Regions from separate parts of the Homo sapiens genome. Here all the other regions are linked to region 2. The links come from fine-mapping of genetic effects on gene expression. A gene starts in region 2. Each other region holds a variant in brackets. All regions are shown on one strand. Distances are between the middles of the regions. Region 1 overlaps ATIC (5-aminoimidazole-4-carboxamide ribonucleotide formyltransferase/IMP cyclohydrolase). Region 2 holds the start of ATIC (5-aminoimidazole-4-carboxamide ribonucleotide formyltransferase/IMP cyclohydrolase). Region 3 holds the start of LINC02862 (long intergenic non-protein coding RNA 2862).

What was found. PIP is the estimated chance that this variant, and not a neighbour inherited with it, causes the effect.
Region 1: its variant is fine-mapped to the expression of ATIC in amygdala (GTEx, PIP 0.91).
Region 3: its variant is fine-mapped to the expression of ATIC in whole blood (TOPMed, PIP 0.96).

Annotation. Positions count from the first base shown.
Region 1 is chr2:215,331,349-215,339,535 of GRCh38, reverse strand. ATIC (5-aminoimidazole-4-carboxamide ribonucleotide formyltransferase/IMP cyclohydrolase) reads right to left here. Exons shown (of 16, transcript NM_004044.7): 8 at 7,029-7,154; 9 at 6,079-6,186; 10 at 4,532-4,617; 11 at 3,412-3,501; 12 at 629-757. Among named protein-coding and RNA genes, the nearest start is that of ATIC, 23 kb to the right of the region's middle. The variant A/T (reference allele first, on the strand shown) is at 4,708.
Region 2 is chr2:215,307,448-215,315,634 of GRCh38, reverse strand. It overlaps ATIC (5-aminoimidazole-4-carboxamide ribonucleotide formyltransferase/IMP cyclohydrolase), which reads right to left and starts at 3,576. Exons shown (of 16, transcript NM_004044.7): 1 at 3,474-3,576; 2 at 3,011-3,137. The coding sequence starts at 3,492. LOC124907975 (a long non-coding RNA gene) reads left to right here and starts at 3,663. Exons shown (of 2, transcript XR_007088075.1): 1 at 3,663-4,956. RefSeq lists silencers at 3,232-3,601, 3,612-3,691 and an enhancer at 3,222-3,872.
Region 3 is chr2:215,271,136-215,279,322 of GRCh38, reverse strand. It overlaps LINC02862 (long intergenic non-protein coding RNA 2862), which reads right to left and starts at 4,333. Exons shown (of 3, transcript NR_174956.1): 1 at 4,183-4,333; 2 at 1,640-1,715; 3 at 1,376-1,554. RefSeq lists an enhancer at 7,410-7,958. The variant T/A (reference allele first, on the strand shown) is at 3,669.

The DNA.
Region 1 (8,187 bases), 24 kb before region 2:
ATGAATATGCATTTATTTTCGAGATAGGATCTTGTTCTGTCACCCAGAGAGGAGTGCAGTGGCACAAACACGGCTCACTGCAGCCTTGATCTCCCAGACTCATGCAATCCTCTCACCTCAGCCTCTCGAGTAGCTGGACCTACAGGCGCAGCTACCACGCCAGGCTAATTTTTGTACTTTTTCTAGAGACAAGGTTTCACTACATGGTCAGGCTGGTCTTAAACTCCTGACCTCAAGAGAGCTGCCCCTTGGCCTACCAAAGTGTTGGGATTACAAATGTCAGCTACTGCACCCAGCATCTATATGTATTGATATAAAAACACATTTGTAGCCTAGCACATGGAAAAAAGCCAAGTTACAGGAGTCAGATTATGGAAGACATGATCCCATTTATACACAATTAAAGCTACTTATCTCTAGTGTGTACATATGCACAGAAGCTTCTAACATGGCCTTTGATTCATTTCTTAAACTCCAAAGCTTATGTGACAACTCAAAGATAAGCTAGCTAGCCGTGTGCATACAGACCAGTTCCAAATCCAGACCTTAATAAATGTAAAGCTCATTAAGTATTGAAAACAGACCAATGGAAGTTACTAGCAGTCAGTTCAGATACTTCCCAACTTACATCTTTATTTTTGGTAACAACATTGCTAAATAATGACTTGTCGACGACACCATTATTTCTCTTCTGGCTTAAATGAAGACCAAAGAGAGTTCGAACTTCATTTTCATCTGGTTTGTAAGATTGGTCCATCTAAAATACAAATTTTAAAAGTTAAAGTTAATCTCTCCACTTCCCTCAAATTTTTCATTTAATTTATATACAAAAGATTTCATTGTAAGTAAAGTTATATGCATGTTTCTAATTTTTTACAGTTTTCTAATTTTCTAATTTTTCTCACACAACAAATGATGTGTTAAATCATTCTGGTATGATACAATTCAACATTCTGGTATGATACAACAGCCAGGCGCTAATATTTTTCTCCAAAGTCTTTTATAGATTTTACTACCCAATAGTATTTTATAGATTTTACAACCTATATACAACATGTTAAAAAACAATGATTCCAGTGAGTGTATTTTTGGTTAAGTTACTACCTATATGGTTCTTTTGGAAGGTCAGCAGATAAAACAGATGTGCTAATTAAATAAGCAATGGCACAAAAATTAAATTCTAATTTTCCTTTCTAAAAATCTGTTACAAAATACCCAGCTAACCCAGGAATTGAAAGCTAAAAGTGAGAAAACAGGATTTGTAATCTGTGTCTTTGCTATTTGGAAGGAATTTGTATCATTTACTGCCATCTTCCTCTCCCAAATTTTGAGCCGAAAGAACATTAAGGTGTGTGGAACAATACGTGTAACACTACTCTCTCCCTGGATATTTTTTTAAACTTGACACTATTTCTTCTTTATGCTTTGGATGATCTTTGATTTAGAAAGCCCTGACATATAATTTATAAGCAAGACCCCGTAAATATTAGTTCTGTTTAATCTACATTTTCTTGAATTCTAAAATGTTCCTTTGTATTATGCACTATAAAATTTCTAAAATTGATATGCTCTCCTATTAACTGATGCTAGGAGAAACTTATCATTAGTCAGGTAGAGGGATAAGTTGTCTCATGCTTATAATCATGCGTCCAATGTGCAAACTAAGCCAAATTCTCAAATAAGTAAAATACCAATGAAGTCCTGATATTCCTTTGACACTCTCCAACTATCAGGTGTTAAAGAGATCAAGAAAATGACTCAGGTTTTGGAAAATATTTTCCATGATGCTACAAGAAAATGCTAATGGTTGTTAAGTACATAACACTCTTAACAACAACAACAAAAAAAAAACTTGATTAAGAAACTGGGGGCCAGGCGCGGTGGCTCACGCCTGTAATCCCAACACTTTGGGAGGCCGAGGCGGGCAGATCCCTTGAGGTCAGGAGTTTGAGACCAGCCTGGCCAACATGGTGAAACCCTGTCTCTACTAAAAATACAAAACTCAGCCAGGCCTGGTAGTACATGCCTGTAGTCCCAGGTACTTGGGAGGGTGAGGCAGGAAAATCGCTTGAACTCAGGAGGCAGAGGTTGCAGTGAGCCAAGATCACACCACTGCACTCTAGCCTGGGCAACAGACTGTCAAGTGGCTAAAAAAAAATAAGTATTAACTTTAATGTGGTATTCTCTTCTTTCCTTAAATAGCTGACATGGAATCTATGGTGAACTATAAAATTATTGGTATCTTACAATCAAAAGAATATACTTAATAACTTTCCTTGTAAGGAATTAGGATTCCACAGAGTTCTGATATCAATACTATGAAAAGTAGCATTAGGAATTTTTACTTTAAATTGAAATAACTCTTTGCTTTATCAATGCATAATCTTAGACCATGAGCTACTTTTCCCAATACAGAAGAGCTCATAAAAATCAGTTAAAAAAAAAAAAAAAGCCAACAACAACTTAGTAGAAAAATCATCAAAGAATATGGAAAGACAGTTCATAGAAAGGAATAAAAACATTCAAACATGAAAAGATGCTCATACCACACACAATGTTAAAACTACATTGAGATGCCATTTTCTAACTGCAGAGACTTTTTAAAAGTATAAAACCACAATGCTGACAAAAGTGTTGGGAAACAGGCATCCTTATATATTTCAGTTAGGACAATGAATTTGCCTACAACATCTAAAAGGGGCAGTATCAATTAAGATTACCAATATACATAGAGCTTGTTATTAAGCCTTAATTTCACTCTCAGGACTTTTCTAGGTTATTCACTGCAGGGGTATTTGTAGTAGCTAAAGATTGGTGACTGTCTAGGTAAGTTAAAATACACAGATACAGGACAAACTTCCAAGAAGGTGAAGCAGGGTGCACTTGTGTCAATAGGAAAATAGAAAAAGAAATGCACATGCAAATATTTGCTGAATACATAGACTATTTCAGGAAAGATAAGCAAGAAATTTAAAATAGTTATCTTTTCAAAAGGTAACAGAAGGATGGAGAGACTTTCCATTAAATATTGTTACTATTATTAGTATTTTAGAGACATGGTCTTACTACACTGCCAAGGCTGGAGTGCAGTCGTTATTCACAGGCATCATAGTACCACAATACAGCCTCCAATTCTTGGCCTCAAGCCATCCTCCCACATCAGCCTCTCAAGTGGCTGAAATTATAGGCATGAGCCATCACAACCAGCAAAAAGTTAAAATTGAGGGTAAGAAAGCTACTCTCATCTCAAAACCCCAAGTTAATAGTATTTTTTTAAATGCAGGATTGGGGAAAATAAACTATAATAAGGATAAACTAGAAGGGTATGAGTATAAAGGAAAGAGTAAACAAGGGAGAAAGAGACACAGAATAAAAGAGCAAATTACCGCTTCAAACATGAATTGCACTCACCTGAAGGACACAATAGTTTCCATTTTTCTTTTTGGAAAGTATTGTCAAGGCTTCTTCTTCATATCCTGGGGCAATTATACCATCAGATACCTGCAAAAATATTAAATTTTAATTTCTATTTTTAAAAATCAGAGAACACCTCTTAAAAAAATCTAGCAGCAATTATCAGTCTTAAATAATGTGGCAGCATATTCTGGTTTCTGCCTCCAACAAACAATGCTAACGCTATACTTGAAAAGAGAAATCTATTAGAATACAGCTTTCTGTATAGCAGATCCTAACTTTCTGTCCTCTCCAAGTTTTTGTTCGTTTCAGTTTAAACTAAGAAAATATGACTGATTTGCTCTTAACACATGTACCTCAGGAGGAAATATTTCTTCAGGGAGTGTTTTGAATGAGCAAGAGCACATTCTAGTCCTGACTCTCCTAGTACATGGTTAAATGACCTCTTCCGGCAAGGCGTTTTCCTTAACAGCAAGACCAGATTAAATCAGAGATTTGACATGACGAAAGATACAAATGTCACAGCCCTCCTGTAACCTGTAACCCAGGGATGGCAGTGGCCATGGAAAGAATCCTAAAGCAACAAAATAGTGCCAAGCCACATGCTCCTTCAGCCTTCACCTCTGCTTATTTTTTTCCCCTTTCTGAGCTATTTAATCTTTTTCTCTTTTCTTCCTGTCTTCCTACTACCAACAGTACCCCCACCTGTCTGGAATACCTGTTTGGTATTCAACTGATGGGGTAAGTTTATTAATGTAGTTTCTGTTTTTTACCCACTATGCAGTAAGATGGATTATATCGCATCACCACCTAAAATTACAACTTCTGCTCTTCAGAAACAGTAACTTTGGCATGAAGACAACAAAGAATTTAAAATAAATATATAAGTAAAAAACATCATAACAGCCAAATATCCATCTGAAACAATAATTCACTACATTTCAAAATTAACAATTTAAGATTAATGTTCTATTTAAAATATGAACATTAAATGATAAACTTAGCTAATTAAAAGATATTATAAATATAAATATTATAGGTTATGGTTTCAATTAACATTATGAACAAATAAAGCTTTATTCAACACACAGATTAAGATACATGAATGTCCACTAACTTCTCTGGAAATAATTTTTGCAGTTGGTACATCACAAACATCGGACAATGCAACAAAATCACCAAATGAAGACATCCTATCAGCCCCTGTAAATAAAATTAAAATGAGGTATTTATCACAAAGTATCCTGATACAGAAAAAGTAATAAAATTCTCCACTGTCATATAAAATTCATT[A/T]CTCTAAAGCTAATCTTACTGTTTACATAAGATTTTAACAGATCAATAAGTCATTTAACTGAAGTAACCAGTAAGAAAGTATTCTTTAATTTTACCCTCTAGAGTGACACTCAGAAAACTTTTTCTGTGAAGGACCAATTTATATATACTATATTCACAAAAACAGGGTGGCAGGCTGGATTCAGCTGAAGTTGCTGACCACTGCTGTAGATGATAAACTATGGTAATAGTTTCTCAAGAACTTTCAGAAATACTAAAGGGATATTCATGGGTTATTAAATTCAACAAGTAAATGTCTCTGATAAAACATGACTCTAACCAAATGTAGTAAAGTTAGAAGAGCCATAAATCACGCCTGTAATCCCAGCCCTCTGGGAGGCTGAGGCAGGTGAATCACTTGAGGTCAGGAGCTCAAGACCAGCCTGGCCAACATGGTGAAACCATGTCTCTACTAAAAATACAAAAAAATTAGCCAGGTGTGGTGGCACGCACCTGTAATCCCAGCTACTCAGGACGCTGAGGCAGGAGAATCGCTTGAACCCAGGAGGTGGAGGTTGCAGTGAGCTGAGATGGCGCCACTGCACTCCAGCCTGGGCAACAGAGCAAGAAGCTGTCTCAAAAAAAAAAAAAAAAAAAAAAGAATAGCTTTTTGTAATTTCAATTTTGGTCACATATTAAACAATAACAAATGCATTCAATAGCCTAAATTAGCAAAATTACATTGACCAAATTCCAATTGTGTTTCCATTTATTACACTAAAATACTAACAAATACTTTTTTTTTTTTGAGACGGAGTATCGCTCTGTCACCCAGGCTGGAGTGCACTGGCGCTATCTTGGCTCACTGCAAGTTCCACCTGCCGGGTTCACACCATTCTCCTGCCTCAGCCTCCTGAGTACCTGGGACTACAGGTACCCCCCACCACGCCCAGCTAATTTTTTGTATTTTTAGTAGAGACGGGGTTTCACCGTGTTAGCCAGGATGGTCTCGATCTCCTGACCTCGTGATCTGCCCGCCTCAGCCTCCCAAAGTCCTGGTACTACAGGCGTGAGACATTGCGCCCGGCCTAAAATACTAACATACACTTTTATAAAGAAATGTATTTTGAGGTACTCACAGAATCAATCTCAAATATTAATAAAACAAATTAAATAGGAAATCCTATAATGAAACAAAGGGTATTTTACTTTAATCAAACTATATTATATAGAATAACTGTATATTTACATAGAGATAGAAGTCCTTAATTTCATCTATATATTATACAGAATATCTATATATTTTTTCTTTATTCTATCCTCTTTATTCTATTTAGGATAAAATATTGCTTTTTCTTTCTCCCCCAAATCAAAAAGCCCTATGAGTCTGACCTCTTGCTCTTGCATATGCCGCTGAGATGGGTGTGAGGGTTTTATAGAGATCATAAACCATGCAGACTTTGGCCTCATCTTCACTGAGTGGAATTCCAACAGCAGCACCTGGTTAGAAAATAGTAAAATCATAAACAAAGAAAGCTAAAGTTACTACCTGTCAACTCCTAAATCAAGACAGTTTTCTTAACACCCAGTCTACGCAGCACATTTTCTAGTGCCTGTGCTAAATTAAACAGAAATCTATTTAGCCAGATAATTATACACTAAAAATATGGTTGTGGGAGCAGTGTGAGGGAAATCTCCTCTCTGCCCTCCAAAACCACAGAGCCACTGAAGCCTGACAGTACCCAGCGTGTAGGTGAAGCTCGTTTACTTCATTACTGACTCACTCTTTCTCTCTGTTCTGCTTGATATCACTTTGATATCACACATCATTTATTTCTTCCCCACTCACATCACTTTAACACCCAATAAACACCTGAGAACAAATCATGTGCTGGAGGACTGTCAGCAAGATGTGGTGTACAGACAACTCAATTGCGGAGTTCATGATTTAAACACAGAAGCAAAGTATCTCATACAACGACTATAAGAAGTTTCAGATAAAGAGTCCAAAGAAGAACTTCTTTATGTTTACTCCATTACATTTTCAAAGATGTGGCACAAGACTTAGTCTATTGCATTAGGACATTTCACTTTTATTTTCTAAACTTTTATGGTTCCACCCCACAAACAAATTCCTGCCTCATTTTCCTGACAATATTACACAATTCTGTGTGTGTGTGTGTATCAGATTTTATATTATTACATTGATACTGTTATCAACAGATGACTTTCAGATTTCATAGCATGTCTATATTCACATTAGAACTTGTTAATATTCAAAAAAATTTAAGAAGAAATGCCTTTCGAACAATTCTGGAGCTTTCCAGAGCACAGAGCTTTACCTGCTGGGCTGACATGTTTGAAAGAGGCAGCGGCTGGAATACCTAAAGCCTCCTTGAGTTCCTTCACCAGCTGCCAGGCGTTCAAAGCATCGCACAAGTTTATAAATCCAGGGGCTCCATTTAGAACTAAATGTAAAAATATACATGCACATTACTAAGCAGGATCAGTAAGGTCAGATGTATGCACACTTCTCAAAAAAATAACATGACTAAACAAATGTTTTAAGTATAATTAAGAGCCAAACAGATACACACAAACATAAAATCTTGATGATAAAGAACAAAGCAACTGAGCCTGAGCCCATCTTTAAAAAAAATGCACATGTACATGAACACACACACACACACACACACACACACACACACACACACACACGACTGGAGGACCAGAACCAGCCAGTCTAGAAATAAATCCACAATAAGAGATTTAGGGATGGGAGAAACTATGACAAGACTAGTGATCAGTCAGGAATTCATGTAAATACAGAACTAAGATTAAACAATTGAGGTAATCACAGAGACAGTACAAAATTAAAGTTATAAACCCTATCGATGTAAGAAATTATATTACAAGCTAAAGCAACAGCTGTGGGTGGAAGAAGAGAAGAAATAATGTGTTTTTTCTTTCTTCTTTGATGGCAAACTCAACAGACTCTGCCTAAAGCAGAACTGTAGTTAAAAGGAGACTGCAACTTCAGAGTTTTCCATTACCTAGTTTCTCAACACTGGCAGATTTTTTTAGGAGCTAGTATCTCTTGTGAATAAACATAAGAAGTTCAGCACACAGAAAGAAATGGTGGGCCAGCACTAATTAAAAACAAAAATGAGCCGGGTACAATGGCTCACCCCCATGACCCCAGCACTTTGGGAGGCCGAGGTGGGTGGATCACAAGGTCAGGAGTTCGAGATCAGCCTGGTCAACATGGTGAAACCCCCGTCTCTACTAAAAACACAAAAATTAGCTGGGTGTGGTGGCGGGCGCATGTAATCCCAGCTACTAGGGAGGCTGAGGCAGGAGAATCGCTTGAACCTGGAAGGTGGAGGTTGTAGTGAGCCGAAACCGCGCCACTGCACTCCAGCCTGGCCAACAAGAGCGAGACTCCGTCTCAAAAAAAAAAAAAAAAAACCCAAAAAACAAAAATGTGTAATTTCATGTCCT
Region 2 (8,187 bases):
ACTTGTAATCCCAGCACTTTGGGAGGCCAAGGCAGGCAAAATTGCTTAAGCCCTAGAGTTCAAGACCAGACAGACAACATGGTGAAACCATCTCTATGAAAAATACAAAAATTAGTTGGGCATGCTGGTGTGCAGCTGTAGTCCCAGATACTCAGGAGGCTGAGGTGGAAGGATTGCCTCAGCCTGGGAGATCGAGGCTGCAATTAGCCATGATTGTGCCACTGCACTCCAGCCTGGGTGACAGAGTAAAACCCTCTAAAAAAATATATATATATAGCTTTCTCCTGCCCTCTTGCCTCTCACCCTTCATTCTTCCCTGAAGTCACAGAAATGAGAATTTCTCTTCCCCAGGGCAGTTTACAGAAACTAAAACTCTTTTTCCCCAAAGCCAGTCATAAGATTTAAACTTATGATTCTAACTTTCCACTGGCTTTCTGTCTAGGAGCTGGACGTAAAGAAATCCTCTCATCTCCTTGCCCATTAGTAGGTCAGGAGATCCTTAGGGGGTGGAGAAAGAATTTTAGAGAAGCCAAGAAGAATCTGGACAGACAGGCTTTCCTGGCTTTCTCCACCTCAGTCTACTAGCATACACCATATCCTTGCTGTCCAATCATACTTCCACCTTTCTGTCCATTCTTTGTTGAACCTAAACATAAAAATGGATGGTTTTTCCTCTGTCTTTGGGTCTTCATTCTGAAGGCTCTCATGTCATGTAAAACTTTGTTAAATAAATTTGTTATGCTTTTCTCTTATTATAACCTGTCTTCTCTTATAAAAATATTGGCCGTGACGTTTACGATGGAGAGCAAAGGATCACACCTTTCCACCCCTACAAAATCTTGGCCTCGGGTGCGGTGGCTCACACCTGTAATCCCAGCAGGCCAAGGCGGGCGATCACTTGAGGTCAGGAGTTCGAGATCAGCCTGGCCAACATGGTGAAACTCTGTCTCTACCAAAAATACAAAAAAATTAGCCAGGCGTGGTGGCGGGCGCCTGTAATCCTAGCTACTTGGGAGGCTGAGGCAGGAGAATCGTTTGAACCTGGGAGGCAGAGGTTGCAGTGAGCTGAGACAGTGCCATTGCACTCCAGCCTGAGCAACAAGAGTGAAACTCTATCTCAGAGAAAAAAAAAAAAAATCTTGGCCTCTTAACTAGCTGTGTAATCTCGAGCGAGTTACTTAACTACGTTGTGCTTAATTTCCTCACCTATAAAATGAGGATAACACTACCTAAACTAAAAAGTTGTTATAAGGACTATAAGAGTTTATATATGTAAAATACCACTGCAACTGAATAAAATACCACTGCAACTGAATGTGGCCTTTGTTGAAGAAAAAACAATTGCTCCAAGTTGTTTACATTTCATTCAGTGAACTTTACTGTGCTGGGGTCTAAATAAATCACTCATGGTGAACTTCTTATCCTTTCATAGAAGAGAAACACATTTACATTTCCAGTTTTTAAAGAAGATATGACCATAATGAAGATAAGTGAGGAGTGGGTATAGGTACAGAAACAAGACTAATCAGTTGATAAGTACCTAAAGTGGGTGACAGATATAGGACCCAAGGGATCATTATACTTTTCTACTTTTGATTGTGTCTGAAATGTTTCCATAATACAAAGTTTGGTGGGGAAAAAAAAGAGACTACAGATGAGGATTTTGCTTTACGAAGGTTCCATTACCATAGGAGGACCCAACTTGGCCCAATGGAAAGCACGCAGGTCTGGACTTTGAATTCTCATTCGGTTGCTGATGAGCAAAGAGCCAACTTGCCTGCCACGATTCTCACAGGTTTCCCATGAAAACCACAGAGACAAGACGCAAAAAGACATCCGAAAATATACAGTTATGTATTTGTTAATAAAGTAAGGCATTCTTACCATCTGAACTTGTTAAACTTAGGGAAGCTGTGTACTGCTCACATAGCTGGGAACTGCACAAAGAAAAGGTAATAACCTACCTCTACATGGATCTAGAAACCAAGAAGCAAATTTTCCACATGGCAACAAAAAGCAGACAGATATCCTTCATCTCTTTCATTCTAAAATATGTTTCAGGGGTGGTCATCTCGTTCCTCCCAACTCTCACTGCCGTTTATTAAATAGCTATCCTATAGTTTTTTTCATTTTTCTACCTTTCAGTAGACTTCCTCCCTCTCCTCCCAGAATGCCACTCCTTGACATCAGCAATGGCATCCTGGTTAATCATTTCTAAGTCCCTTCTTTCCATGGCCTAGTCAGCTAATGAAGGGCTTGTGAACGTGGGAATGAATGATTTGCACCTTCATATGGTTACCAGAGATTCTAAGGGAAGGCAGGTAAATTGGAATCTTCATGATGTCGAGTTTTATTAAATCACCAGTCAAAGTAACTGAAGTTTTCCTTGCATAACAAGTGGCCCACCTAAGTTAATCTGTTTAAGGAAGGGGCTAAGACTAGTGTCCTAAAATCAGGAACAGCACGGGTTCCAATCCTACTTTTCCCTTACTCAACTGTTTAAACTTGTGCAGAAGATGCTAAATCTGTCCAGTGTGTTGTCCAGGGTCTTTCTCTGTCACCCAGGATGGAGTGCAGTAGTGCCATCTCGGCTCACCACAACCTCCGCCTCCTAGGTTCAAGCGATTCTCCTGCCTCAGCCTTCCCAGTAGCTGGGATTACAGGCGTGTGCCACCATACCGGCTAATTTTTGTATTTTTAGTAGAGACGGGTTTCACCATGTTGGCCAGGCTGGTCTCGAACTCTTGACCGTAAGTGATCAGCCCACCTCGGCCTCCCAAAGTGCTGGGATTACATGCGTGAGCCACCTAGCCCAGCCGTCCAGGGTCTTAAAAGTTGCTAAATCTCTCTGAGCCTCACTTTTTTTCCCCATAAAGTGGGGAAGTATTACACCAACCTCACAGCGCTACTGGGAGGAGTAAATAAGGCGTTTTGCTGCTGGTGCCTGGAATACAATACTTCCTGGTTAATGTGATCACACTCCTTTCTGATGGAACTAGCTATGCCTTACCTGACTGCCAGACCAGCATCCCTGAGAGCTTTTGCAGTCCCTCCGGAAGCGACCAGATTCAAACCAAGAGCGGTCAGGTTTCTTGCAAATTCCACAAGGCCGGTTTTGTCAGAGACACTAAATAAGGCTGAAAGAGAAGACATTTTTTCTCATGATTCGCAGCACATTGCACTGTGTTCTGCAAGGCCTTGGGAGGGTCTGGGGGAGGAGATTCTCGAATCGCAAGGCCAGCACCTGGACCCTGCGTTCGCAGGCCTGGTCCGGGCCTCCCCAGGTCTTACACCCGCGAGCTGCTCTAAGGCGGGCCCCACGCAGGCTGCGGCCCGGCCGGGGAGCGGGGACGCTGGCTTTCAATCCCGCAGCGCCGCCCCTGCAGTGCCGGGTCCCGCCGGCCGCCGCCAAGGCGGGAGCGTGGGGGGCCGCAGGCGAGGACGCAGACCGCGCCGCTCCGCTAGGGCCTCACCGAGCTGGCCGGGAGCCATGGCTGCAGGCACTGGGTTCAGGGCGAGCGGGAGGCAGCAGCGGCGGCACCACGTGCGCAGGTAGGAGGGCTGCCGGGATGTGGCGGCTCAGGAAGCGAGGGGGCGGAGCTGTTTCCGGGCTTATCACGTGGCCCGCCGGCCCTGCCCGGCGCCCTGCTCTGCTCAGTTTCAGATGCAAGATCCGCGCCCCGGGGCTGAAGGGAACGGCGGGATGGGGTGGGGCTCTGCCTGGCGCGCCTGGGCGGAGTGCTTGGGCTGGAAGGGATCCTGCCTGCGATCCCGAAGTCCAGGCGTGGGAGCCAGCGATCTGCCCACGACCCCAAAGTGAGGCCACTCCACGGCCTCTGGGGCAAATGCCTGTTATTCTAGGCAGCCGGTCCCCAGAAGCTGGAAAGTACGTAAAAGTGCCAGAAGCTCCCATGCTGAAAACTAAACAAAAGGAATAGTTCATATAGCGGCAAAGCTGGAAAGTATCTGGACAGTTATCTACCATCCTCCCTTTTTGTTTGTTGTTTTTTTGTTTTTCTGGGTTTTTTTGTTTTTTTTGTTTTTTTTTTTTTTTTTTGAGATGGAGTTTCGCTTTTGTTGCCCAGGCTGGAGTGCAATGGCGCGATCTCGGCTATGTCACGTGCAACCTGCAACCTCCACATCCCGGGTTCAAGAGTTTATCCTGCCTCAGCCTCCCGAGTAGCTGGAATTATAGGCAGGCGCCACGATGCCCGGCTAATTTTTGTATTTTTAGTAGACATGGGGTTTCGCCATGTTGGCCAAGCTGGTCTCAAACTCCTGACCTCAGGTGATCCGCCTGCCTCGGCTTCCCAAAGTGCTGGGATTACAGGGGTGAGCCACCATGCCCAACTTGTTTTTTGTTTGTTTGCTTGCTTGCTTGTTTGCTTGTTTGTTTTGAGACAGGGTCTCGCTCTGTCTCCCAGACTGGAGAGCAGTGGCACCATCTCAGCTCACTGCAACCTCTGCCTCCCAGGTTCAAGAAATTCTCCTGCCTCTGCCTCCACACCCGTCTAATTTTTTGTTGTTGTTGTACTTTTTTTTTTTTTTTTTTGTATATTTAGTAGAGATGGGGTTTCACGGTGTTGGCCAGGCCGGTCTTCAACTCCTGACCTCAAATGATCTGTCCACCTCAGCCTCCCAAAGTGCTGGGATTACAGGTGTGAGCCACCGTGCCCGGCCCCATCCTCCTTTTTAATAGGCTTAAAAAATAAAACCAAGGACCAATGATTTAAGTGAGGGACTCCAGAGGCCACAGATGACAGTCAAAACGAAGTGAAATTGACATTCGTTGTTGATTTTCACGTCATAAAATTATAATTTAAATATTAATTTATAATACTATTTTATACAATTTAGTCAGTATTGTAAAAGTGCCTAAAAACTACTTAAAGATGGTGTCTTCTTGCAAACCTGTAAATATTCCTGGATGAGAGGAATGATGACAGTCAAAAGAAGGTAAGAGAAGACCTTTCTTAATTCATTAAAAACAGGGAAAGCAAAATTGAACACATTTGTTTCTTTCTAAAAATGACACCTTTGCCACAAAATAAATACATATTGTGGTCTATGAGTCTTTTTTGTGTTATTAGAATTATATTCCAAAGTAATAGCATTGTTTATCTTTTAGTCTGAGCTCACAGCTGTAAAAATGAGTCTATTTTCTCATTATCTGCATGCTATTTATTTTTGTTTTTCCTCTTCCTTTCTCTAATTCTTCCCATCTCTTTACTCCCCAAAATAAATACCTATTGACTAGAATCAATTTTTTTTTTTTTTTTTGAGACAGAGTCTCGCTCTGTCACCCACACTCTCGCTCTGTCACCCACACTGGAGTGCAGTAGCGCGATCTCGGCTCACTGCAACCTCTGCCTCCCAGGTTCAAGCGATTCTCCTGCCTCAGCCTCCCGAGTATCTGGCACTACAGGCGCGTGCCACCATGCCTGGCTAATTTTTGTATTTTTAGTAGAGATGGGGTTTCGCCATGTTGGCCACGCTGGTCTCGAACTCCTGACCTCAGGTGATCCACCTGCCTTGGCCTCCCAAAGGGCTGGGATTGCAGGCGTGAGCCACCGCGTCCAGCCTGGAATCAATTTTTTGACCTCTAAATATGTTAGCCCTTTGCTCTGAACACTTCTCACATTCCTACGAGGAATATATTAAGATTATCGCATGTCTTCAGTGTGTTTGCCAAATTTGAATTTAAAAAGGATATTTCCTTGGCCAGTCACCATCAGGTTTTTACAGGAAATCGAAAGCAAGGAAAGGAGAAAACAATGCTGACATTTATTGATAAGGGGAAATAAACAGTTGCTTCGGCATTATGCATTTGTCTGTCATGTGAATTACAAATATTTATTCGATTCAATACATTTTTATTGAGCCTTTTCTGCTTGGATGGCAGAAACTCAGTGTCAGAAGACAGATAAATATCACCTAAGCACTGTCCTCAAGGAGCTCATGATGGAATGAAAATGTAGACACATGAAGTATAACTAAAAAATATTAATAGAGGCCGGGTGCGGTGGCTCACACTTGTAATCCCAGCACTTTGGGAGGTGGAGGCGGGCGGATCACGAGGTCAGGAGATCATGACCATCCTGGCTAACACAGTGAAACCCTGTCTGTACTAAAAATACAAAAAATTAGCCGGGCGTGGTGGTGGGCGCCTGTGGTCCCAGCTACTCGGGAGGCTGAGGCAGGAGAATGGTGTGAACCCGGGAGGCGGAGCTTGCGGTGACCGAGATTGCGCCACTGCACTCCAACCTGGGCGACAGAGCGAGACTCTGTGTCTCAAAAAATTAAATAAATAGGCTGGGCGCGGTGGCTCACGCCTGTAATCCCAGCACTTTGGGAGGCCAAGGCGGGCAGATCACGAGGTCAAGAGATCGAGACCATCCTGGTTAACACAATGAAACCCCATCTCTACTAAAAATACAAAAAATTAGCCAGGTGAGGTGGCGGGCGCCTGTAGTCCCAGCTATTTGGGAGGCTGAGGCAGGAGAATGGCATGAACCCCGGGGGGCGGAGCCTGCAGTAAGCCGAGATCGGGCCACTGCACTCCAGTCTGGGCGACAGCGAGACTCCATCTCAAAAAAAAAAAAAAAAGAAGAAAAAATTAAATAAATAAATAATAATAATAGAGAAAACACGGCATTAAACTGATTTTGTAGAGCCTCTTTCATTACAGACTCTTCCATTTACAGATGTTTACTCTGGGGCCTGGTGTAGTGTCTCATGCCTGTAATCCCAGTGCTTTGGGAGGCAGAGGTAGGAGAATCACTTGAGGCCAGGAGTTTGAGACCCACCTGGGCAACATAGTGCATGCCTGCAGTCCTAACTACTTGAGAGGCTGAGGTGGGAGTTCGAGGTTACAGTGAGCTAAGGTTGCACGGCTGCATTTCGGCCTGGGCTACAGAGCAAGACCCTGTCTCTTAAATAAAATAAAATAAAAAAATAACAGGCTAGGAGTGGTGGCTCACGTCTGTAATCCCAGCACTTGGGCAAGCTGAAGCAGGTGGATCACTTGAGGTTAGGAGTTTGAGACCAGCCTGGCCAACAGGTGAAACCCCGTCTCTACTAAAAATACAAAAAGTAAGTTGGGTACAGTGGCTCACGTCTGTAATCCTAACACTTTGGGAGGTCAAGGCGGGTGGATTGCCTGAGCTCAGGAGTTCAAGACCAGCCTAGACAACATAGTGAAACACCGTCTCTACTAAAAAAATACAAAAAATTAGCCAGGCATGGTGGCGGTGCCTGTAATCCCAGCTACTCGAAAGGCTGAGGTGGGAGAATCGCTTGAACCAGGAGGTAGAGGTTGCAGTGAGCCAAGATAGTGCCACTGCACTCAAGCCTGCACTATAGAGCGAGACTCTGTCTCAAAAAATAAAAATAAAGATATTTACTCTGATTAATTCTCCCATAGTTTTAGCATCCCGACTTGATAGGACTTAATATGTTAATGACAAAAAGAGTAAATGAATTTTTTACTAGCTTTGTGATCCTGGCCAAGTCACTCCATCTTTTGGGGACCTTTGTTGCTTTACCTGTAATATGGACATAATATTTTTTCTGCAGTCCTCATCATATTTTAAGAAGCGAATTAAGTACAGGTAGTCTACTGAAAGTACAAACTGCAAAGAGACTAAGAAGAGTAAAATAGAGGTGTAATCTTCTTGGTTCCCTTGGTCTGGCTAATCAGGTATCTTTCTGGGCACCAAGGTATGTCTTCAAAGATCTAGTCACCAGCAAGCTAGTGTCTTAGAAAAGGGAGATGTTCTCATAAAGATGAGAATGCATCTTTTACCAATGGTTTATCGCAGGATTATTGTTTCAGAAAGACAGAAAGGGCGTGTATACACTATAATGATTACATTTTCATTTCTTCTTACTTCACATACCTCCAAAGAGAAGCTTGAAGACCCTAAAATCATAGTAATATACCTTAAAATATTTAATGTACATGAATTGTTTCAGTTCTTTGAAGGTGTTATAATCTGATTTTGCCCCTATGTTGTTTGTTTCTTGTGTAAATTCATCACTTTTTTTTTTTTTTTTTTTGAGACGGAGTCTCGCTCTCACTCTGTCACCCAGGCTGGAGTGCAGTGAAGCAATCTTGGCTCACTGCAAGCTCCGCCTCCTGGGTTCACGCCATTCTCCTGCCTCAGCCTCCCAAGTAGCTGGGACTAC
Region 3 (8,187 bases), 36 kb after region 2:
CATCTGAGGAATATGAATAATTCCAAGTGAAGTAGACATTCATAAAATGCTTTTGTTCTTCCATCATTTAAATCCAAACTTTTCCATGCTGTCTTATTATGTTGGTGCAAAAGTAATTGCGGTTTGTGCCATAACTTTCAAGGTCAAAAACCGCAATTACTTTTGCAGCAACCTAATAGTTTGCTTACAGGAATCTAACAGTCGTTATTCTCTTGGTCAAATTGAAAGCTGAAAAATAATCTTTAAAATATAGATCTCTATGTTTATTTCAAGTCTTCTTGGCATTTTCTAAATTAAATAATTTCATAAAACTAGACCAAAGCTGTATGAGCTAAGATATTTATCACAGTATCAAAATAATTAACATTTACTGAGAAAAGTCAGACACTGTGATGCACTGTTTTATATGCATAATCTTTATTTACTATCACAACCACCCTATGAAGTAGCTTGTATAATAATCCCAATTTTTACAGATGAGAAAATTGCACTTTAGAGAGAGTACGTAACTTGACTAAAGTCACATAGCTAATAAGTGGCAGAGCCAGCCAGGACTTTTTTTCTTTTGTTTGTTTGTTTGAGACAGGGTCTTGCTCTGTGGCCCAGACTGGAGTGCAGTGGCACAATCTCTGCTCACTGCAACCTCTGCCTCCTAGGTTCAAGCGATTCTCCTGCCTCAGCCTCCAGAGTAACTGGGATTACAGACACATGCCACCATGCCCAGCTAATTTTTTTTTTTTTTTTTTTTTTTTTAGTAGAGACAGGATTTCACCATGTTGGTCAGGCTGGTTTCAAACCCCGACCTCAAGTGACCCACCTGCCTCGGCCTCCCAAAGTACTGGGATTACAGGCATGAGCCACCACCGCGCCTGGCCCAGGACTTTATGTATGTGTGTGTGTATATATATATATATATATATATATTTTTTTTTTTTTTTTTTTTTTTTAAGGCAAAGACTCGTTCTGTCTCCCAGGCTGGAGTGCAGTGGTGCAATCTTGCCTCACTGCAACCTCCACCTCCTGGGTTCAAGCAATTATCATACCTCAGCCTCCCAAGTAGCTAGGACTACAGGCATGCACTACCACACCCAGAATTTTTATATTTTTAGCAGAGACAGGGTTTCACCCTGTTGACCAGGCTTGTCGGAAACTCCTGACCTCAAGTGATCCACCCACCTCGGCCTCCCAAAGTGTTGAGATTATGGGCGTGAGTCACTGCACCCACCACCAGCCAGGACTTTAGAGTCAACAAGTCAAGTCTTTCTGACTCTAAAAGCTCTTCTTAACCTCTAGAAAAAGTAAATATTCAGCAATAGGAAACTCCTCACATCTATTATAACTTCAATATAACAGAATATTATGCAGCCATTGCAAATTATGTTCTTGGTTAATTTTTATTGACTAGAAAATGCTTATATTTTAATAGCAAACAAAAGAATAAGCAAGGTGCTGTGGCTCATGCCTGTAATCCCAGCACTTTGGGAGGCCAAGGTGACAGATAACTTGAGTCCAGATGTTCAAGACCAGCCTGGGCAACATGGTGAAGCTCCGTCTCTACAAAAAATAAAAAAAATTAGCTGGGCGTAGTGGTACATGCCTGAAGTCCCAGCTATTCCAGAGGGTGAGGTGGGAGGATCACCTGAGTCCAGGAGATGGAGGCTGCAGTGAGCCATGATCATGCCAGTGAACTCCAGCCTGGGTGACAGAGCAAGACCCTGTCTCAAAAGCAAACAAACAAAAAAATAAGATTCACACTAATGCATACATTATTATCTCAGCTATGTAGAAATATAAACATTTATGAGCTGGGTGCGGTGGCTTATGCCTGTAATCCCAGCACTTTGGGAGGCCAAGGCAGGTGGATCACGAGGTCAGGAGATCGAGACCATCCTGGCTAACATGGTGAAAACCCATCTCTACTAAAAATACAAAAAATTAGCCAGGCGTGGTGGCAGGCACCTGTAGTCCCAGCTACTCGGGAGGCTGAGGCAGGAGAATGGTGTGAACCCAGGAGGCGGAGCTTGCAGTGAGCTGAGATTGCACCACTGCACTCCAGCCTGGGCAACACAGTGAGACTCCGTCTCAAAAAAAAATAAAAAAAGAAAAGAAATATAACCATATATGAATACCCATAGAAAAAATGGGAAATAGTATATACAAATATTAGGATTGCTTTATTTAAATGTGGTATGATTATGAATGATTTTGCTTTCTTATTACATATTTCTGTAATGAACATGTATTACTTTTATAATCAGGGAAAAGATAACAGAAATTTTTAATACTTATAATATGAGGGAGGAAATATAAAGACTTGGTTTTTATGATTAGAGAAATAAGTCCATTTAATAACTGCTGTATCCATGAAGTGCAAAACCTTCAATATGCGATCTGTTTCTGACATGATGGCTATCAGATACTCAGATACATACAAAGTAATATTCTCTTGCTTGCTGAATTCTCTTATTCTTTCTGCCTTATGTTGGAGATAAAGTAGAAAGTGTGTGTTTCTCATTGGGAAGTTGGCACTTGAATGAGACTGCCGCTTTTCTCAGCTTAAAAAAGATAAAAGGAGTTATCAAGTAATGTTTTCTTTCACCTAAGGATGTTGGTCCCACTCCAACAATTGGAATTGATTGAACTCCTGTGCTTGCAAATTTAAAAGCCTTTTACACAGGGGATCTACTCACTCAGAATTTTACAAATCAGTGGATGAACTCAAAACAAAAACCCATTACAGGGCACCTTAATGTTTATCTGTTTGGCAAGATAAACACTTGTAAACAAGCACTTTCAACTGTGAGCTTCGATAATAACACTATGAGATCTGTACTGGATGTTAAAAATTTACATACAACTGTAAAGATAGGACAAACCTAAAGAAGAAAATTGCTTTTTTAAAATTAAGTTTTCTGATCCATATTCTTAATTACATTGTATTTCATTTATCTAGACCACAGCCACTTCTCTTGACTTTTTCCTTGATAGCATTTTTATTATTGCCTATGGAACGTAACATTGCATGACACAAGTATGCCATTGGTATTTGATTAAATAGTACTGCTTCCTGAAAGCCTGGAAACCTTCAATCAGGCAAAAGAAATGATATTAAATAGCCTTATGTCTGATGAACATAATAACTGCTAATTAATTTGTTATTTAGCCCTGAAATTGTCAAACCTAAATGTGCTTTTTTTTTTTTTTTGAGACAGGGTCTTGCTCTGTCACCCATGCTGGAGTGCAGTAGCTCAATCATAGCTTACTGCGGCTTCAAACTTCCAGTATTAAGCAATCCTCCCACTTCAACCTTCTGAGTAGCTGGGACTACGAGTGTATACCACCATGCCCAGTTAAATATGTATATATATGTATATGTGTGTGCGTGTGTGTGTGTGTGTGTGTGTGTGTGTGTATACATATTTTGACAGGGGACAGAGTCTCTGTCTCCCAAGCTGGAATGCATTGGTGCGATCTTGGCTCACTGGAACTGCCATCTCCTGGGTTGGAGCAATTCTCCCGCCTCAGCCTCCTGAGTAGCTGGGATTACAGGTGTGTGTCACCATGCTCGGTTAATTTTTTGTATTTTTGATGGATGATGGGATTTCACCATGTTGGCCAGGCTGGTCTCGAACTCCTGACCTCAAATGATCCACCCGCCTCAGCCTCCC[T/A]AAGTACTGGGATTACAGACGTGAGCCACCACTCCCGGCCCAAATCTAAATCTTGACATTAAATTTAGACTTCAGAGTTTCATTGAGATTAATCAAACTTGAAATAAACTTTAAGAAAGATCATATCCAGGTAAAATCAGTTCTTTTGTCTAAAAAAATTAGTTATTACATTTCAACCAACAGACCAAAGGGCCTTAACCTCTAGATCAGTGCTTGACAAATTACTGATGGATCAGTCCCCAACAAAACACACACAATTTGTTACAGACCAATACTTTGATAAAACTGAAGAAGCAAAACAATGGAAAATGAAAAAGTCATGCAAAATAGAAACACATTTATAAATGATTAGTTTCAACAGATACACAACTATTGTCAAACTTTTCCAAATGTTTTAAATCCTTACTCTCATTTTCTGTGCTTTACTTGCCATGAACCAATAACAAACAATTCTGAGAGCCATGCAGATCACGGACCACATTTTGAGTAGCGCTGCTGTCGGCTCCCTGCTCACCTTAAAGTCCCATATGTTGCTGTTTGTCTTTGGCTGAGAATCTGATTAGGTAATGGAATGAGGCTGACTTCCTTATCTTCACCTGCAACTCCCCTTGAGTAGGTTTGCAGATTGTAATTATACCTGTGTGGTATCAAGATCTTTCACCTGTAGGGTCCTGATGCAACTGAGGTATTTATAAACACCGAGGCAAGTTCCCAGGGTTCAGCTGCCCGTGGTTTCAGGTGATGACTCCGCTGGGCAAATGTCAAGGACCTCCGTGAACAGCATAACCAGCTGAACCAGAGGGAAATTTCCCCAAATGTTTTACTCATATATAGGTGAAATAGCTAGTAGTTCCCGCACTGTGTATGATCATCAGAATCATAACAATGCAGTTTTAAAAATATGTTAGAACCAACTATAACTGCTGACTCTATTATTGTTCAAACTATTTCTAAGCGTTTTCTCCCCTCCTCATTGGTTGATTCCAACACCACAGGGAATGGAGGCTGCCCACAGCCAGAGTCTTTAGGGAAAGGATAGAGTCAGACTGCTCGGTCTTTCCTATCAGCAGAAGGCCACACTGGCTGCTGTGCTGTTCTGGGCATAGTCAGCATGATGATTGCTTTGAGAGATTTAGAATTGGCATTTCTTTAGCTGTTGCGCCTTCTTTCACACCAGCTGAACAACAGTTCTTAAAATGTGGCCCAGAGACTCCTACAACCATTTCAGGAGGTCTGCAAGGTAAAAGATCTTTTCATAGTAGTACTAATGTTATTTGCTTTTTTCACTCCCATTCTTTCATGAATGGGGTTTACAGTGGCTCCATAACGTGTAATGATATCATTGTTCCGATGCTTAATGGAATGTGTGCTTCTGTGCTCTTCGTGTATTCTTGTAATACCAATCTTAATTTCAAATATGATAAATATTGACAGATAGAGCCTGCGTAAACTACAGCCGTTCGGAGTCTGTAATATTTTTTAAGAGTATAAAGGGGTTTCGAGACCAAAAAGTTTGAAAATCACTGCTGTAGAAGAATAAATTTAGTTAATTGTGTCTACAATGAAATGTAGAGGCAATTTGGCCTAGGAGATTTTTCTTTTTATAGCGTCCAAAATGCTATAGTAGTGGGGCCATGCCGTGGCAAGGAAACATTCTCCTCTGGAGTGCCCAGAGGAAACACAGCCTTGCTCAAGACGCTGAAGGACTTCTGACCTTCAGAAATGTAATAAATCTGTGTTGTTTTAAGCCTTGAAGCTTTTGGTAATTTGTTACAGCCACAATAGGAGCTGAATATAGGCCAGGTGCGGTGGCTCACACCTGTAATCCCAGCACTTTGGGAGACCGAGGCAGGCAGATCACCTGAGGTCACGAGTTCGAGACCAGCCCGGCCAACATGGTAAAACCCTGTTTCTACTAAGTATAAAATTAAAAAAAAGCCAGGAGTGGTGGCGGACACCTGTAATCCCAGCTACTTGGGGGGCTGAGGCAGGAGAATCCCTTGAACCAGGCAGGCAGAGGTTGCAATGAGCCAAGACCATGCCATTGCACTCCAGCCTGGGCAACAGAGTGAGACTCCACCTCAAAAAAAAAAAAAAAATAGGATACAAATACAGATCTGTTTCAGAGAAAACAAAGACTTGTTGAGCACCTGCTAGGCACCAGGCCATGAGCAAAATTACATAGTCAGGGCTTACAAACACTAGGATTCAAATTCAGGTTCACCTGCATTCAGAGACCAAATCCTTTCCATGAATCTTTTTTTTTCTTTTTTTTTTTTGTCCCCATTCCAAAAGAAAAAATGTTCTATGGTAAAAGTGGTGCTATAAACTTTTGATTTTCTCTAAGGACAATTGTAGAATTTCAGTGCATGATCCATATTGTCAGAGATCATGAATATTGCTTAGGTCCTGATGGCACCTTGATCGTATGCCCTTACTTGACTACAATCTAGTCGATATGGATAGCACTGTGGGTAACTTTACAGGCACTCAGTGTGTTCCCCTGAGCTAAAGAAAGGAGGTATTTCCCCCACGTTACTCCCTGTATTCCTAACTATGAATCAACTCTCAGGTTAACTGCAGCATACTCATTTACTTCTGAAAATGAAACATGAGAATTGTTAAATGTCAAGCTCTGCCTCATGAGAAGGAAATTCTAAAGTGAATTCTTATTCAATATGGGTAAGAGAAGATTAATTGCTTTTTAAAAATTTGGTGATGAAACATGCTGGTTTTCTAGTCTAAAGGAGAGTATTTACTTATATCAATATTCAACACCAGTTGATTTGTAGGAATATTTTTAAGGCAAGATTGGTTTGAAAGCAATTAGGATGGATAGAATTTGCTTTGGAAGGTAGCTTAAATGTAAGCAAGGCATCAAAATAGCTTAAATATCCAAATATTCAGAGATGTAATTCAGAGGTTTCAGGAACATCATGTATTTGGAAAAGCCAAGTTGATAGTTCCACGCCATGAGATGGTGATTCATACAAGATGTCTCCATCTTCATTTTGCCTATTATCTTTCCCCCAGTTCTACACTGTTCCAAGGGTATATGCCAGTCATTTCTGAGTTGATATTAGGCCGGGACTCAAGATCACCAAATCCCTAAAAAACCACTTACAGTCACAACCATGTCTACTAGATTCCCCATAAGAGACACAATCCATGCCTTGATGGTGAGGCCTGGCCTGTGCACACTGTTTATTACTGTTTGGGTTTGGTGCCAAAATCCTTTTTGGAATTCCTAGACCTGGCGAATTGTGCTGGACTACATAGGGCTGAAAACATTCCTATGTGTCTTTTGTCAGAGGCCTAAATGAAGTTCCTCCAGATCTCACTCTAGTGGCAAAAAAAAAAAAAAAAAAAAAAGAGAGAGAGAGAAATCCAAAGAAAAATAGAATATAGGTGGGATGGTTCCCTACGCCCAAAACCTAGACACTCTACCCCAGGCCAGGCCTTCCTGTGGCAATAGGAAGTGGGGTGTGGGTGGTTGGTGAGAAAAGGCCGTTGGAGGAGTTCATTACTAGGTGGAAAGCAGGCCTGTCTTAATTGCTAGAGCGGCAGCTGGCGGAGACATCATTTTAATAAGACAAGTCCAAAATGACAGAGTCTCTAAAATCCCTAATCCAACTGGAGAGCATAGTTAGAGAATAAGCTTCTGCCTCCTTTTCTTACCATGACATTAAAAGTTCCACGCTCTGCCTCAACACTGTGGCCCAATAAAGATCCTCAGAAATTAATGTTGCTTCTCCTTAGGTGTCAAGGACAGGGAGGACTGGAGCTTTGATCTGACCCCATAGGCCAGCAGTGTATATTACCCCACAGTTAGCTAATGTTATGGTCATAATTTACCTCCTCAGGCCTGCCTGGGATCTGTCAGTTTTATCAATGGGGAGGTGAAACAGAAGCTGATCCTCTTCCCTACCAGCCTTCCAGATTGCCTGGGCTGCTTCATTCCTCCAGCATTCCATTTAAATCAAGGCAGGCACAAGACCTGCTGCTTTGCATTGTGATGGGATGCACCTGACAGGTAGCATCTGAGCACTCTGGGATGCTATGCAGCAGTGCAGCTACAAGCATGAATCAATTAAGTGGCGATTAGGTTCAGACTCTCAAGCAATGACATAGTCGGCTTCACACTGACTTTGCTATACATAAAATCCCCAGAAAGAATAATACCTTATCCAAACTTTCATTATATCTGGTAGTAGAATGAATATGGATCGATAATAAATTTTGTTCCAATATAACATTAGTTTCAGAAGAATTTTCTCCTTCTTTCCCTATCAAGAAATCAAATTATGGCCATAAAAATAAAGGCTTATCTACTTGAGGACTCTGTGAAGAGAACAATGGTTTGCTTTTTAATATTAACATTTTAGCTTGTATTTGAAAATAAGCTTGGGTGATTTTATACAAGAGAGAATTAAATATGTTTCTCAGAACATGAACTTACATTTGGATGTTTTGGAAAAATAACCTTTTTTACATGACAATGGAATTAGATCTTATAATA